Linked DNA regions of Homo sapiens. The protein of the gene in region 1 interacts with the protein of each later gene in a biochemical or structural test. Each region holds a gene or a part of one and is shown in the gene's direction. Other genes may lie near its edges.

Region 1 (3,773 bases):
ACAGCGAGGTTAGTAACCTGCTGGGTGTTGCATGGCCAGTGAGTGAAGAAGCCTGCATGGGAACCTGGGGTAGTCTGGCTGTAGCAGTGACGCTGCCGGCCCAAGGGCTGGGGACTTGGGGCAGGGATGAGGGGGAGTAGGATGTCCCAGCCCCCGCAGTGTCTCCGCAGAGCCCAAAGCAGCTGCTGCCATTTCATGGTGAAGCTCTTGGATGATGGGACTTTCATGATCCCCGGGGAGAAGGTGGCCCACACCTCGCTGGACGCCCTGGTCACCTTCCACCAGCAGAAGCCAATTGAGCCGCGCAGGGAGCTGCTGACACAGCCCTGCAGGCAGGTGAGGGCGGGGACCCACAAGGTTCACAGCCATTTCCTTGGGGCCAAGCCCCCCAGACCCCTTTGTTTCCCACGCCCCCATCAGCTCCTCTTGATTCTGTCACTCTCATGGTCCTTGGCCCCTCCGGCCCCACCCCAGTAGTCCCTCTGCCCCCCACAGCGGTCTCCGTTGTGGTTCCTGCTTCCCCATGGCTCCGCCCTCCAGGCCCATGTCAACAGGCTGATTTTTTATAAGGGTTCATGTGCCAGGTATAATCTTGGCTCATCTGAAGGAATGACATCTTTCCTTAGAAGGCTCGGTGGGCGTGGCCTGGCTCCCAATACGCTTTCCTTAGAAGGCTCAGTGGGTGTGGCCTGGCTCCCAATAAACTGCTGTGGGTGGAGCATCTTTCCTTAGAAGGCTCAGTGGGTGTGGCCTGGCTCCCAATAAACTGCTGTGGGTGGAGCATCTTTCCTTAGAAGCTCGGTGGGCGTGGCCTGGCTCCCAATACGCTTTCCTTAGAAGGCTCAGTGGGTGGCCTGGCTCCCAATAAACTGCTGTGGGCAGGGCATGTTTCCTTAGAAGGCCCAGTGGGCGTGGCCTAGCCCCTAAGAAACTGCTGAGGGGGGTTATCTCTCCTTAGAAGGCTCAGTGGGTGTGGCCTAGCTCCCAATAAACTGCTGTGGGCGGGGCATCTTTCCTTAGAAGGCTCAGTGGGTGTTGCCTAGTCCCCAAGAAACTGCTGTGGGCAGGGCATCTTTCCTTATAGGGCTTGGTGTGCCTGGCCTAGCTCCCAAGAAATTGTGGTAGGTGGGGCATCTTTCCTTAGAAGGCTCAGTGGGTGTGGCCTAGCTCCCAAGAAACTGCTGTGGGTGGGGCATCTTTCCTTATAGGACTCAGTGGGCCTGACCTAGCGCCCAAGAAACTGTTGTGGGCGGGGCATCTTTCCTTAGAAGGCTCAGTGGGTGTGGCCTAGCTCCCAAGAACGTGCTATGGGCGGGGCATCTTTCTTTAGAAGGCTCAGTGGGTGTGTCCCAATCCCTAAGAAATGGCTGTGGGTGGGGCATATTTTCTTATAACGCTTAGTGGGCGTGGCCTAGGTACTAAGAAACTGCTATTCAAGGGATGGTCCCTGAGACCTGCCTTCCAGGGTCCGTGCAGGACCTTTCCCCCTCCCTAGTGCTGAGCTACAGGCCCCTTCCGCCCTGCAGAAGGATCCCGCAAACGTGGATTACGAGGATCTCTTCCTCTACTCCAACGCAGTGGCCGAGGAAGCTGCCTGCCCGGTGTCTGCCCCTGAGGAGGTATGTATATGACAGGAGGCTGGCACCTCCCACCTGGCTGAGGGGCAGGAGTGGAGGTGGTCAACAGCTTCCAGAGGAGGCTCCTTCTAGAATGAGAATGCGATCCTACAGCTTGGTGCTTTAAACCTTTCCAGTGCTTTTGCAACACCGAGATTAAAATTCAAACTACAATCTGAGGTCCTCTTTCTGCCTGTCACCTACCCAGCGCCAGCCCTGCTGCCATACCGTCTGTTGTTCAGACACACCAAGCTAGCCTCGGGGTCTCTGCGTGTGCCGGCCCCACCTCAGGTCCTTTGCACAAACTGTGTGCCCTGCCCCTAGATTTCCCATGTCTTCATTCATTTCTCCTTCAAGTGCCTCCTTCCCCAGGCCCCAGACCTAAAGCAACACCTTCTGGATTCTCCTTCACATTACCCTGTTTATTCACTGCAGCGGACTTCCCAAAAGTGTTCCTCAAAATCCTATTTACTTATGGGTTTACATGCTCCCTGGCTGCCTTTCCAGTCAGACTGTGAGCTCTGAGAGACTGGAGACTCCATCTGGCTTGTTTGCCTTTGCTTCTCCCACCCCTCTGAAAGGACCTGCCATATTGAAGGTGCTTAACTAATGAATCTGTGGAGTAGATGAATGAATGTATCACAGCATCTTGGGGTTTGGGAGACCTTTAGGCACCCCTAGGTTGAAGTCTAAGTGCTCTCCAAGCCCCCTGCCCAGCAGGGGAAGTTATGACAGTGGTACAAATGAAACAGGCTGGTGTGATGGACATCAGTGGAGGTGGGGGGTGCAAGTGGGGGAAGGCAGTCAGGGAAGGCTTCCTAGAGGAGGTGGCTTATAGCTGAGATCTGCAAGGTGAGGAGGAGCCAGTCATACACACAGACACAGGGAGGACATTCCAGGCAGCGGGAATGGCACTTGCAAAAGTCCTGGGGCTTGGTGTGTTTGGAAAACAGAACAAAAAAAGCCAGCATATAGATGGATTGGGGTTAGTGAGAGAGAGATTGTCAGAAGTTGAAGCCCCAGGGTCAGGAAGGGCCAATAGTGCAGGGCCTTGGAGCCAAGGTGAGGAGCTGGGATTCTAGTCCAGTTGCACCAGGGAGGAGCCAAAGGAGAGTGTATGCATGGGAGGACTTTTTTTTTTTTTTTTTTTGAGACGGAGTCTTGCTTTGTCGACCAAGCTGGAGTGGAATGGCACAGTCTAGGCTCGCTGCAACCTCCGCCTCCCAGGTTCAAGCGATTCTCCTGCCTCAGCCTCCTGAGTAGCTGGGACTACAGGTGCGTGCTAATTTTTGTATTTTTAGTAGAGACGGGGTTTCACCATGTTGGCCAGACTGGTCTCAAACCCCTGACCTCATGATCCGCTCACCTCGGCCTCCCAAAGTGCTGGGATTATAGGCGTGAGCTACCACACCTGGCCGGAACTGGTGGTTTTAAATGTTTCCTGTGGCTACTGGCTGCAGAAGGGGCTTTCCTGGGCACTGGTGGAGATGGAAAGAAGGAGGAAGTGAGGTGGGGGTGGAGGACAGTGTCAAGGTGGGAGGGACAAAAATGAGAGCCCAGGTGTGGAAAGAAACATGGATATTTGGTCTGCGTAGTGGCTCACACCTGTATTCCCAGTGCTTTGGGAGGCTGAGAGGAGAGGATTGCTTGAGGCCAGGACTTTGAGACCAGCCTGGGCAACACAGCAAGCCCGTCTCCACAAAAAATAAAAAAATTAGCCAGGCATGGTGGCGCACGCCTGTAGTCAGCTACTCTGGGGGCTGAGGTGGGAGGATTGCTTGAGCCTGGGAGGTCGAGGCTGCAGTGAGCCATGATTGCACCACTGCACTCCAGCCTGGGTGACAAAGCAAGACCCTCTCAAAAAAAAAAAAGATTTGTAGAGATGGGGTCTCACTACATTGCCCAGGCAGGTCTCAAACTCCTGGCCTCAAAAAATCCTCCTGCCTCAGCCTTCCAAAGCACTGGGATTACAGGCATGAGCTATCACACCTGGCCCCACATTTTTGTAAAGATAGTATTTTGTAACCTGTGAAAATCAGATAAAATTCATATTTCCATGTTTATCAATAAAGCTATATTAGAACCCAGGCACGCTCATTGGTTCACGTGTGACCTCTGGCATCCGCTACAACAGCAGAGCTACATAATTGAGACGGA
Region 2 (3,871 bases), on another chromosome or scaffold:
TATTATTCAAACATAAACTGGTCTAGGAGAATATTGCATCACTGACTAATTAGCCTATCTAGAGTCTAACTTCACCATTAAACCAAAAGCAGATGGTGGTCCTTGGCCAAGAATATTGGAGACATTGGAGTTGGTTTTTTTCTAAGCTATAAGAAGTGAGGCGAGCTGAAAAAGTATGGTAGAGCAGGAGAAGGGTTTGTGAGATTCCTTCTAGTGAAGTTCACCCTCAAACTTTTCAGGGGTAAAGACACAGAGTGATTCAGGGGCCACAATCTAATAGCTCAGGGCTCTCCTATCCATTCAGAGAAGTCTCTAGGAAAAGGGATCTCATATCAGTACTTATGAAAAATTGAATATAAGCCTCCCTTTCTAAATAAATCTGCATCGAGTCATCACAGCCCTCTTTTTGGATACTATACCTTGATTTTTTTTTTCTGATTTACAATATGCATATGGTTTCTACTGGGCTATAGAAAGCAGAATCACTCATTTTGGAGAAGGAAAAAATGAATAGTTAAAACAAACTTTTAACTGTTAAGGTAACAGAAATGTATTTAGTGAATGTCTCTTTCCTCCTAAGAACACAAGACTTCTACATGTTGGGTAATACCTAGAGATGCATGTAGGAATAATCCAAAATGACCCAAATGCTTTATAATAGCACCACTTTATAATTCTTTTGAATGATTTCTGTAGTATATAATTGACTTCAGTTGTTTGAGTGTTTTTTGTTTTATTTTTGTCCCCCCTGGGAAAACATATTTCAGCATGTATAAGAGGGAGAAAAAAAGTTTCATTCCTTCCAGAGAATAACTTATTTAGTCCAGTAGGGTAGAATTTTAAAATGTCAGTTAAAGTCTTCAAAGTGCTTGGGGGGATATCAGATTCCAGAGGCCAATTGTAGCAATTGAAATTTGCAGAATCAATTATGTAAATCTGAGACAAATTAGTATTAAAATTACACGGAGTATATTTTTTAAATCACCCAACTTTGTAGATTATACCTATTTTGGGCAGGTATGGAAAAATTTTGCAGTTAAATGATTGCCTAAAGAAAGTGGTAAACAGGTGAGGAAAGATGGCCTCTGATCTAGGATAGATCCAGAACCACAAAGCATCTGCACCACAAAAGGTGTTAGACTACCAAGCAGCTCCTGGTTTTCTGCATAGTATTAGTAGCACAGCTTAGGATGAGAATCCTTTCTCCAGTAACATTCTTAAAATAGCATGAAAAACAACGCAAAACTCAAATTTCTATTAAAACACACAAACTAAAATCAAGTGATTCTTTTTTGTAGATTAGGGAGAAGGACTGAATATCTAATTTAAGAGAAGGAATAGTGTTTAAGTGTTATAGTGTGTGAGCTAATACCTTCTAAAGGAAAGACATGGCATGAAGATTGTGCATACTTACAATGCTAAGGAAAAATCAAGAAAAGGACTGTGTGAGGCTCTGCTACTAGATGAAGTTGGAAGGACTATTAATGTGCTTCTTGAAGTATCAAAAATGAAAAGAAAATTAAAATTGTTTAAGCCTGACAGGGAAGGATGTAAATACAAGTTTTTCTAGAGCTCTCTAACCTTTATTTCAAAACTGGAATTATTCATCCATCTGTAATTGTTGATAATTTAACTAGTATATGTAGTTCATAAGGTAATAGAAAAGGTGATCATGAAAGCATGTATATAACTGGACAGAACCACGATAATGCTATAAGATGTAGATTTAGTTAGGTTATCAGATGTTAAATGATTTTAATATTATTAAATAAATCAAACTAGAAAACTAACCACAAGTATAATGTAACAAAGTTAAATGCAGGATATAAAAATGTAGGATGGATTTTGCATAGTAAAAAGATAAGTTTGCCATTTAAAATTGTTGTTTGTTGGGTTTAGCTGAAAGTAGGCATATATGGTTCCACTTGGGAAAACTTGCTTTAAAGCATTACAATGAACAATTTTTTCTCATTCTCTTATTCCTTTATCACTTTTTAAATGTAAAGAAAATTGTATTTATTTATTTTTTTAAATAAACACCACCTTGCAGAATTTAATAGGCAAACATGTTACATATGACTAAGTAAGGGTCTTCAAGATGAAGTAAAGAAAATGTAAATGTTCTATTACCTTATGCAGAGACAAAAAAAAAAAGGAGTGGTGTCATTTAGCTAGCAAACAAACAAAATACAGTTAATTGGTGATATGTCCTTTCTTTTCTCACTATGCCCTCTTGCCTCCAAAAATGACAACAAAGAATCACAATTTTTCTGATAAATAAATGCTAAACCAAGCGTTTCAAACTATTGCATTGCCATTCTTTTGGACTTTAGTTATTAGAATGATGATTGTTATAGGGCAAATGAGAAATCCATGTGCATCAGCTTCTAGTTGTTAAAAAAACCAGATAAATTAACTTCTACTGTATACTGTGGGCAGAGGATCCTAGAGCTGATCCTACAACATCAGCTTCTAGTTGTTAAAAAAAAAAAAAGAAACAGATAAATTAACTTCTACTGTATATACTGTGGGCAGAGGATCTTACTGTGCCTCTGTTTGTGTACATGGACTTCGGTGTGTATCAGTTTGAAGGACAGCCTTGCCCCATGTAAACATATAAATGCAGATTGGTATCGCCTGGTTGCTATTTGCTTAAGAACAAATATTATACAGATGAGATCAGGCATAATTTTAAAAGATCATTATCAGTGGAGACCTCATTATTACTGATATTACAATGGGGCCAGTTTTTATACTTCTGGGTAGAATTAATAAAATTTTTCTGATCCCAGAGATCTGAGTTCTCTCTGCAGTTGGAAACAAGAAGCTGTTGTGGGCATTGTGTCGGGCCAGGGGCCCTTGTGTTTGTGTGGGCAAATATCTTTTAGCAGTGTGAGCTGCTTTTTTCTTTTCATTAAAAGTCTCTCTAAAATAATAGAAATTTCAGATACTCGGTTCAAGTCTCACTGATTTTGTAGAGGTCCAAAAATGTAGGATCTGTCACTTTTGCAGGCCCCTGCCTCACCTAATTCCTGGCCAGGTGACATTTTGGGCAGAAGTAAATGCTTCTATAGTCACAAGCTAAAATGACTCTAAGCCCCAATTTCACGGGGGGTATTCACATGCTTCCTCTGGAAAATACTCTTTGACAGTCAGCTTTGCAAGTAAGTGATTACCTTGTTAGGAATCAAAGAAAAATGTATTTCTCTCTGACCTTTAGAGGAAAATAGAATCCTTCCCTTTTTTGCCCATTGACACAACTGGCACTGCTCTCTTCCCTTTCTACCACCCTGGTTCAAAGTAGTCCCCCGATGCTGTCCTGTTCCTTTCTTAAGCCATAGTGGATCTCTGAGATCCTACACCCCACTTTGTGAAACACTGACTTCATCTTTGCCCTCGAATGCCTGATTTTTTCATAAGAGATTCTAGCAATTTGGACACTGTTTAAGTGAACTATCAAACTACCGCATAGAGAATATTTAAGCTATTAAAATTATGGTTTCCCATGAAGATCAATTCTCTGTGTCCTTCCCTATAGGAATTTGAGACGAGTTAGCCCTGTGATGAATCTTGAAACTCACATATGTCCACATACACTTGGTAGAACTTCGATTTAATCTTTACATAAAAGCTGTACATATAACCAAGAAGTTATTTTTGCCAGTAAATTAACTTATTTGCTTTATTCATCTTATTTGGTTCCTAATCGTAAATATTTTGTAGCTGCTGTAAATTTTTTTCTCCCAAATGAGGAGTCTTATTATCATAAAGGTAAAGGCTATTCAGCTTTGATAACCACCTGCAATTCTTTTTTGGATCATTCATCCATCTAACAAATACATAATGAGGACAGTTCATGTTAATGAAAATC
Region 3 (4,578 bases), on another chromosome or scaffold:
TATTCCTGTTTTGAAATGGTCTCCTACTCCTTAATAGTTGGAATTCTGAGGCAGCACCTAGACTCTCAGGTCCAATTTGAAAATGTATGTTTTTTTTTAAAAAAGAATGACTTGGGGAATAACTGTTTGATAAGACCGTGGAAGATTTCTAATTTTTAATATTTTATTAAAAATGTAAAGAAAGACATTCAAAGCTGAGACCTTTGAAATAATATGGTCTTTGCAAGTCAGAGAAAAAGAGAAGTGGTAAATTTATTAGAGATAGGTTGCCTCCTTTGAGGCCTAATCATGTGGGAAAGGAAAACCCAGCCAAGGTTTGGGTCCATAAGACAATTCAACCTAGCTTTAAAAATAGGTTTTGGCTTTGCTTGGGACCAGCATTGGGACCAGAGTGTATCTAGACCAGCATTTTAGCTATTAAATTTTAAACCTAGGGGTCTTTTAAGGGAAATTTAATCCATGTGTCTTTGATTCACTAAATCTTAAATCATTACTCACAAACTGTATGTCCCTCTAAGCTCTTTGATGTCCAAGAGATCTCTAAAATTGTGTAAGGCCTTTTTGTTCCAGAAAAAAATAGGAAGTTGGTTTTTGCTAAGCGTCAATAAACAGCATCCTCAAAAATCTGATTAGGTCTAAAATCTTGCAACCATGACAGTATGGATGTTTGAATGATGCAATGTGAAAATTTTAAGCACTTTTTAAAGTCCTTGTTTACCAGTAATACTCAGTTGTAATCCTTACTAACCCCAAGGAAATTATTTTGACACATTTCCTCTCTGTTTTGTAATATAAATACAAAGCCCAAATATTCATCATTTTATTCTGGCACATAGTAGGTACTCAGTAAGTATTTTGTAGAGTGTTGAATGACTCTTTCTTCTGCCCAGAAACTTCTAGCTAATGTCAGTTCTTCTATTCAATATTGATATCCATCTGTCATACCTTGGAATAAGATCTATTCTAAGTCAGTGACCTTGTTCGACAAATTTTTAAAATAAGCCATCTAACTAAATATATGACATTTATTGAAATTCATTTTGCACCATGAAGCAACTGCCTTGCAAAGAGTGCTGAAAATAGGAAGGAATTTCTAGACTAATTTGATTAAATATTCAGTTGTTGCCATATGCTTTCTGAAAATTGATTTTCCCCCTTTTACTATTCCTGTCATCCTTCCTCCCACCTTGACATGCTTACTGATTGAAAGCTATGCACAGAAAAAGGGCAGGTCGCTTGTATGTATAAGCAAGAGCAGCAAGTCCAAACAGGCTTAGAAAACGTAATGCTATAATCACGAGTTGTCATAATATAGGAGAGGGGAGAGAGGAATACTCAGCAATAAGAGTGGTGTTGGGTATTGCTCCAAATTACATGGATGACACATCTTTGAACTCTATTGTGTCGGGGGAAAACACCTTCTTGCTGTAGTTAGATTTCCTGTTTGTGAATGTGTATTTTCTGGTAACCAGACTTCCTATATGAATTTGACATAGCTTTAAGTGCATTTCAAATGACATGATTAAAGAATGGCTGCTTTGGAGACAGCAGCTCCTTCTCTCTTAAAGAAATAAACTATCATGCTAAAATATAGGCATTGAGATCTTTCTTGATACCATATTGTGAATTTCTAATGGCTCATCACATTTTTATCCTCAGAAAACCTTTCCTGGTGAAAAGCATGCTGTTTTAGTATCACATTTGGGGTGATGGAATTGGCAATTTCTTATATCTTGAGGGGGCGGGGGGGTAAAAGGAAAATTGTGTTAATAGGGTCTTAAAATAGAGATTCTCTTAGGTTAACCTGAAGATTTACTAAATACATTATCATTACAGCTTGTTTTGACATTTAATTGTAGATGGCACTGTATCAGCACTGACTTATTTATACAGCTTTGTTTAGACATGCCTAATTTTTATTTCATTGGTGGAACCAAACCATCAGTAATAAATCATATATCAGTGTTTTTGTACACATTCGTATTTACATGACTTTTAAAATTCCAATGTAAAGGTCTCACAACTTGAAAAATGAATGAATGCCTGAGTATTTGAACAGTTGGGAAAATGTAGTTCAATTTAAGAAAGATTTTTTATGACAATTCTTATGCCATATATAGAAAATAGATAATAAAGGAGAAGGCCTGGAGGTTTAGATGGGATATTGGATCAATGAGCAAAGGAAGGGGAAAGGTGGGCGGGATATGCTGAAGGGTCATGGGCTTGAGTGCACCCTAAGTCATAAAGAGGGTGTCCCATTAAGAATCAGGCTGCCTGAATTCTAAGTAGGAAAGAGGCAGGTCAAAATGGTGTATAGGCCAGGCACAGTGGCTCACGCTTGTAATCCCAGCACTTTAGGAGGCCAAGGTGGGTGGATGGCTTGAGCTCAGGAGTTTGAGACCAGCCTGGGCAACATAGCAAAACCCCCCTCTTAAAAAAATTACAAAAAGTAGCTGGACATGGTGGCGCACACTTGCAGTCCCAGCTACTCAGGAGGCTGAGGTGGGAGGATCACCTGAGCCTGGGAGGCCAAGGCTGTAGTGAGCCGAGATCATACCACTGCACTCCAGCATGGGTGACAAAGAGAGACCCTGTCTCAGAAAAAGTGGGGGAGGGAGGGTATGGAATAAAGTAAAGCTCATGGGAAAATGGTACCTTTACCATTTTCCCACCTTGGGAAATGGTGGGAAAATTTAGACATTGCTTTACAAAGTCTAAATTTCTGCCAACTTGTGTTACATGTGGTTTGATTCTGGAGAAAGATAGACTATCATCTATCCAGTCCTAAATTGGGCCTCTTAGTCTGTCCTCCCCTCAGTTACCAGGAAGAATAGCAGGAATATGTCACAGAAGCAGAGAAAGCTTTTATTCTGAGTGTCAGAGGCATGTTCTAAGCACTCTGTTATCTACTCCCAGGCACTCTAAATGAAATTCCATTTTCTCTGAGGAAATCAAAATATAAAAAGAAAACTCAGGCAAATTTATAAAGGTTTTACACCATTTTCATGACTGAAATATTCTAGCATATCTAGCTCATTATAATCTATAAATTCCTGTTGGGACCAAAAGTTATGGCCCTAAAACCTGTTATCTGTAATCCTTTTCCACTGGGATATTGTCTCTGGGGATATATATTAGCTTTCCTTGAGGATACTACCTTGAAACCATTTCTTTGGTCCTTGACTATACAAAGTTCATACTAGCATGGATGTAGGAATTGTATTTTTCTATTCTAAATACGAATTTAGACAGTGATATAAAGATTCAAGGAAAGCTTCTATCAAGGCCTGCCTTCACTACTTGTCTTTTGGCTCCTCTGAGGGTCTTAGGTGAGCCACTTTCATCTGATTCTGCCCTCACTTCAGGCAGAATTCATATGGCTCCAGCCAATGGCTACACTGTCCAAAGTGAGACTGTGGTCTCACAACCATCTGGTTAATACAAAGACAGCAAGCCAATATGATCACTTAGGACCTAGGCAAACCTTTGGGCTTAAAATATTACCTTAGCTATTGTTGTTTTTAATGAGTATCAAATAGTATGATATTTGTAATTTGTATTATGTAAAGAAGTAACCAAAGCAGAGATTGTTGACAAAAAAAAAAACTTCCTCCTAACATAAATGAATATGCATTTTGGACTTTTCAAAAATTCCCTTTCTGTCTTGTCAAAATTAAGATATTTCTAAATTTTATTTCGGTCTCACTAACACATACTTGGATTATTGTTCATTGAAATCTGTACGTCAAGGCCCAGTGATTTTAAACATTCTTTTGGTCTTCAAAGAACTTACCAAAAAAAAATTGTTCTTTAAATCACCAGAAAAGTGCAGATAAAATCCCAGACAGTTTCATTAATGACAATGAAAGGTGACAGCCCTTGAATCTATGTCATAAGTTGATTAATTACTTTCCAAACATTATTAAAGATATTAGACGAATAACTTAGACTGGTATCCAGGATCAAGGTTCCTTCATAATCCCTAAATGGGTTTTAATTTTCAGAGTTAGATGATCATTATATGTGATTTATTTCTTTAACATCTTTAGACTGTTGGCTTTATTGAAAAGAGAGGAGAGTATCTGTTTCAATGTGTTTTCTTTTCCCTGAAGTTATTCCTTGCAGAATTCAATAAAACCGGTTTTGAAATAAAAATAATTAAATGCTGGCATTTTCTGTTAATAAGGGCCCATAGACCTGATGAATTATATAAACATTACAAGGAATTTACCACTGAGTTCATAATTATGTAACCATTTAATGCCCAAACCTGCCTACTGACAGTGAAGACGTTCAATGAGAATGGACATTGTGCATTAGGATAAGGATGACCTGGAGTGAACTTTCATTCTTGTTTTGGTTCTTTCCCATTTTGCCCAATTCATAGCACCTGATTCTCTTAACCAGCAAGTCTGTTTGCATGTCTCCAGTCCAATTTTTCGCCATGCCCACTGCAGTGATTCCAAACTCTCACCATTTCTTAAGCTCTTGCATCTTTTGGGCTCTCCTTATTCTCAGTATAAGATCTTTCCTTATAGTTTAGAGAGTAAACACAAGCCCAGTTGTTTCCATGTCACC
Region 4 (4,578 bases), on another chromosome or scaffold:
GGAAGAGAAGCCCTGAAGGTTGGAGTTGGCCAGGCAAAAAGTGAGGGAAAGAATATAATGTATTTAGGGGAAAACATGTGCAAAGTCCCTGAGGCAGGTAAGAGTTTAGCCTCCTATAAACCCTATTATTGGAGGGGGAAAAGTGACAGTTGATGGAAATTGAGAGAAAAAAGACAGGAAACTGTATTTAAAAGATGAACTATACAAGCATAGCAATATGGTACTATTTATTAATAGTATAGGGGCAAATGACACTCTATACAGTGCAACAGCCTCTGAGAGTCTCCTGAAGTGCAGTATAGAAATGGATGCTTACAATACTTAGTCTGAATCATTGGGGAATGGATTATGTTTGGTGAAGTATGTAGTAAAGCATTTTAGAAAGATTTGCGTGCAAGACAATAAAGTTTTAAAAAGTCATTTCTGTATTTAAAGATGAAGCTTCACTATCTGGAGAAATCACTTACTGAATGATATGATTTCTTGAGGGCCCTGCATAAATAACATCATATTTTATATTCTTTTGCTTTACTTCTGCATTACTTTTTAAAGCTTACTGCTTGAGAGGGAAGTATCCATAGAGGGATAATTTTACTAAGAGATGATATTTATTTATTTTGCAGTAAGTAGATGCATATTCAATGAATGGATTTTTATAGTCCAGAAAACAGTGCTAAAATCATGTGAATCCAACACTTTATGACTTTTCAATATTATCTAAAACATCTATAGGACTCTACCCTGCCTTCCCTGGACACAAATTATATACTTATTCCTTTGAGCTGCGTGAAGAATGAGAAGTTAATTTAAAATGTTGATGATTAAAGACCTATATAATGTTTTTAGGCCTTTGTGATCTCTGGTCATCCTCTTGTTAAAGGATTGCCTAAATTTTTCTGTAGAGGAATGCTTGTTCATGTAGCAATACCTCTGCAGACATTTTGCCTGGGTTGCTGTAGTCTCAAGTATTTTCATGTATGTTAAATATTTTTTTCCACAATTAGTCAATTCTTTGAAGGTAGGAATAATGAATTATATACTTGTTTTTCTTCCCACAAGTAGCAAAGGGAATGTTTTATTCCACTGGGGGTTTTCGAGTCCTTCCACTTCCCAGAGCATCCCCACCACCCCGCTGCCCTTTTTTTTTTTTTTTTTTTTTTTTGAGGAGGAGTCTTCTTCTGTCCAGGCTGGAGCGCAGTGATCTCAGCTCACTGCAACTGCCAACTCCGGGTTCAAGCGATTCTCCTGCCTCAGCCTCCTAAGTAGCTGGGATTACAGGAACCTGCCACCACACCCAGCTAATTTTTGTATTTTTTAGTAGAGACGGGGTTTCACCATGTTGGCCAGGCTGGTCTCGAACTCCTGACCTCAGGTGATCTGCCCACCTCGGCCTCCCAATGTGCTGGGATTACAGGCATGAGCCACTGCACCCAGGCCCAGAGTGTCCTCTTGAGGTAGTCTTACCTAGAATGTTGAATCTGGAGCAGAGAATGTTTCTTAGTAAATGACTGAGACTTGCTAAAATAGGCCTCTTTTCTGTCTAGCTGCCTCCCTGAGGAAGAATTTCAAAGAGGAGTAAGGTGTAAGTTTGTTTCCAGGCACACATGTTGGGGTTAAAGGCTGATAAGGAAGGCTGTTTGTCATTTGGTTCTGCTTTTATTATTTGGTGACCATAGATTTAGGGAGGGTGATAGTAAAATAATTTTTTAGGCTTCTCTAGGTATAGTATTAAACTCAAAATTTACCAGAACTTGTGGAGGGGGTATGTGGTGAGTGTATTACAGATTGCCCATGTATGTTTGTTGGGAAGAGGAGGGGAAATATTAGAAAGAGTTAAATCCCATACTCAAGAATACAGGTCTTACTCGTATAGTCTTTGAACAACAGGCTGTGTGGCTAAAAGAGAGACACAATCAATTGCTTCCCAGTCAAGAAGCCAGAAAAGCTTCAAAACCTTTCCCCCTCCCTACTCCTTGCCACCGCACCTAAAAAAAAGAGAAATCTTTTAAGTGTTTAAAATCTGTAGGAGTCTTATGAAGAAGCAGCTTTATGTGTATTCTTTATGGCATAATATTAATGCATGAAAATCTGTTGCTTTTTTAAAAATTGTGGCAAAATATACATAACATAAAATTTATCATTTTAGCTATTTTTAATATACAATTCACTAGCATTAAGTATTAATACATTCACAGCACCATTGCAACCATGGCCACCATCATCTCCAGAACTTGATCTTCTTCAACTCAAACTCTAGGCCCATTAAATACTGTAATAACTCTCCATTTCCCACCCCTCCCCCTCCGCAGGGCCTGACAAATACCATTCTGCTTTCTGTCTGTATGAATTTGACTACTTGAACTACCTCATATAAGTGGAATCATACAATATTTGTCTTTTTATGACTGGCTTATTTCACTTAGCATAATGTCCAGCTTCATTCTTTTGCGTATGGATTTCTAGTTTTCCTAACACCATTTGTTGAAACCATGACTTTTTCATATTTAGTAAAAACTGAATCCTCCTTGATGTATTGCCTCAATATTATATAGTAGGAGATTTAATCGAACATACTGAATATATATATACATTATTAAGTTAATTGAGTTATGAGTAAACGTTGCTTTTCAGAGTGGCAGATTATCCTGTGGTAAAAACACACACACAAACACACACATATTGTGACTTTCTCTAAACAATGCATTTGTAAAATCAGTTTGATAAATGTGCATCTTCTTGAAAACATTATCTCAAGTTAATACTGAATGGATATTTTTGTTTTGTTTCTAGGCATGGAAGAGGAGATGGTTCGTGTTACGCAGTGGCCGTTTAACTGGAGATCCAGATGTTTTGGAATATTACAAAAATGATCATGCCAAGAAGCCTATTCGTATTATTGATTTAAATTTATGTCAACAAGTAGATGCTGGATTGACATTTAACAAAAAAGAGTTTGAAAACAGCTACATTTTTGATATCAACACTATTGACCGGATTTTCTACTTGGTAGCAGACAGCGAGGAGGAGATGAATAAGTGGGTTCGTTGTATTTGTGACATCTGTGGGTTTAATCCAACAGAAGAAGGTAAGTTCAAGATATTACTATTCAACTTGAATTCTTCTTTTCTGCTACATTTCCAGAAATGTCATACAATTCTTTGTTATTTTAGTTACACAATATAATGTTTTATTTTTATAATAGGAACTTGACATTTGGAAAAAGCACTGAATCCTTTAATTAGTTTGGGGAGAAGCTGTTTACCAGTTTTAGAGCGACAGACTTAGACATATTGGGGCAGTTTTTAAATATCCTGAAGTAAAAGGTGACAAGAAGACATTTTAAGAACATTTATTGAATTCCAATATAAATATTCAGTTTAACCATATAACACTGTTGATATTTTACTATTTTTCACCTATTAAAAAATAGCACATTTGGCCGGGCGCGGTGGCTCATGCCTGCAATCCCAGCACTCTGGGAGGCCGAGGCGGGTGGATCACGAGGTCAGGAGATCAAGACCATCCTGGCTAACACAGTGAAACCCTGTCTCTACTAAAAATACAAAAAAAAATTAGCCGGGCTTGGTGGCAGGCACCTGTGGTCCCAGCTACTCCAGAGGCTGAGGCAGGAGAATGGTGTGAACCCGAGAGGTGGAGCTTACAGTGAGCCGAGATCGCGCCACTGCACTCCAGCCTTGGCGACAGAGCGAGACTCCGTCTCAAAAAAAAAGCACTTTTATGTAGCTCAACCCAATTCTTTAGGTGCTATTTAAAAATATATTTTAAAACTATATTAGATTATGGCCGGGCACAGTGGCTCACACCTATAATCCCTGCACTTTGGGAGACTGAGGCAGATGGGTCACTTGAGGTAAGGAGTTCTTCAAGACCAGCCTGGCCAACATGGTGAAATTCCATCTCTACTAAAAATACAAAAATTATCCAGGCATGGTGGCACACGCCTGTAGTTCCAGCTACCCAGGAGGCTGAGGCAGGAGAATCGCTTGAACCCAGGAGGCGGAGGCTACAGTGAGCCACAATTGCACCATTCCACTCCAGCCTGGGCGACAGAGCAAGATGCCGTCTCAAAAAACTATATTAGATTATCCCATTTATGCCTAGTGTTCCATTATTGGAACGCTAAGCATGTGGGAGTTATTTATATCCCACTGCTCAAGGTCATCGCCAAGGTCTGATTGCAAACATTCAAAAAATTGCAACCTCAAGCATAAATAGGTTATGAAGTTAGGAAATAGCCAAGGTAATTATCATTACCTATGAAATGCAAGTGAGAATCAGTCACAAAACACAATGAACAAGTACCAAACAAATGAATTACTTAGCACAGGTCCTACAAGGAACATGGAAGAAGAAAGAGGGGCTCAAGGTTTGGGTAAGAGGTAGTGAAGGAAAGCTTCTGAAAGGAAAATAAATTGCAAAATGTAGGCTTTTGAAAGAAACAGTATTTCTGTGTAAATGAAAGGAGGGACGCAGAACCCTCCAGGCTTAGGGACTTAGGAAAGAACAGACCCAGAGAAGGAATCGAATTTTACTTGACTGGGGCAGTAAGGCTCTGAG

Evidence for each region.
Region 2: the proteins of HSH2D (region 1) and ERBB4 form a complex in vitro, tested with the Homo sapiens proteins (one large-scale study listed by BioGRID).
Region 3: the proteins of HSH2D (region 1) and MET form a complex in vitro, tested with the Homo sapiens proteins (one large-scale study listed by BioGRID and IntAct).
Region 4: the proteins of HSH2D (region 1) and GAB1 form a complex in vitro, tested with the Homo sapiens proteins (one large-scale study listed by BioGRID and IntAct).

What each region holds. Positions count from the first base shown.
Region 1 is NC_000019.10:16,152,873-16,156,645, forward strand, and holds part of HSH2D (hematopoietic SH2 domain-containing protein), read left to right. Parts: exon of another isoform or gene 1-170; coding exon 171-336; intron 337-1,526; coding exon 1,527-1,619; coding exon of another isoform or gene 1,620-1,743; exon of another isoform or gene 1,744-1,790; intron 1,791-2,769; coding exon of another isoform or gene 2,770-2,891; intron 2,892-3,773. UniProt on the Homo sapiens protein: May be a modulator of the apoptotic response through its ability to affect mitochondrial stability. Adapter protein involved in tyrosine kinase and CD28 signaling. Seems to affect CD28-mediated activation of the RE/AP element of the interleukin-2 promoter.
Region 2 is NC_000002.12:211,377,511-211,381,381, reverse strand, and holds part of ERBB4 (receptor tyrosine-protein kinase erbB-4 isoform JM-a/CYT-1 precursor), read left to right. Parts: 3' UTR 1-3,871. UniProt on the Homo sapiens protein: Tyrosine-protein kinase that plays an essential role as cell surface receptor for neuregulins and EGF family members and regulates development of the heart, the central nervous system and the mammary gland, gene transcription, cell proliferation, differentiation, migration and apoptosis.
Region 3 is NC_000007.14:116,678,344-116,682,921, forward strand, and holds part of MET (hepatocyte growth factor receptor isoform b preproprotein), read left to right. Parts: intron 1-4,578. UniProt on the Homo sapiens protein: Receptor tyrosine kinase that transduces signals from the extracellular matrix into the cytoplasm by binding to hepatocyte growth factor/HGF ligand. Regulates many physiological processes including proliferation, scattering, morphogenesis and survival.
Region 4 is NC_000004.12:143,412,687-143,417,264, forward strand, and holds part of GAB1 (GRB2-associated-binding protein 1), read left to right. Parts: intron 1-2,790; coding exon 2,791-3,085; intron 3,086-4,578. UniProt on the Homo sapiens protein: Adapter protein that plays a role in intracellular signaling cascades triggered by activated receptor-type kinases. Plays a role in FGFR1 signaling. Probably involved in signaling by the epidermal growth factor receptor (EGFR) and the insulin receptor (INSR).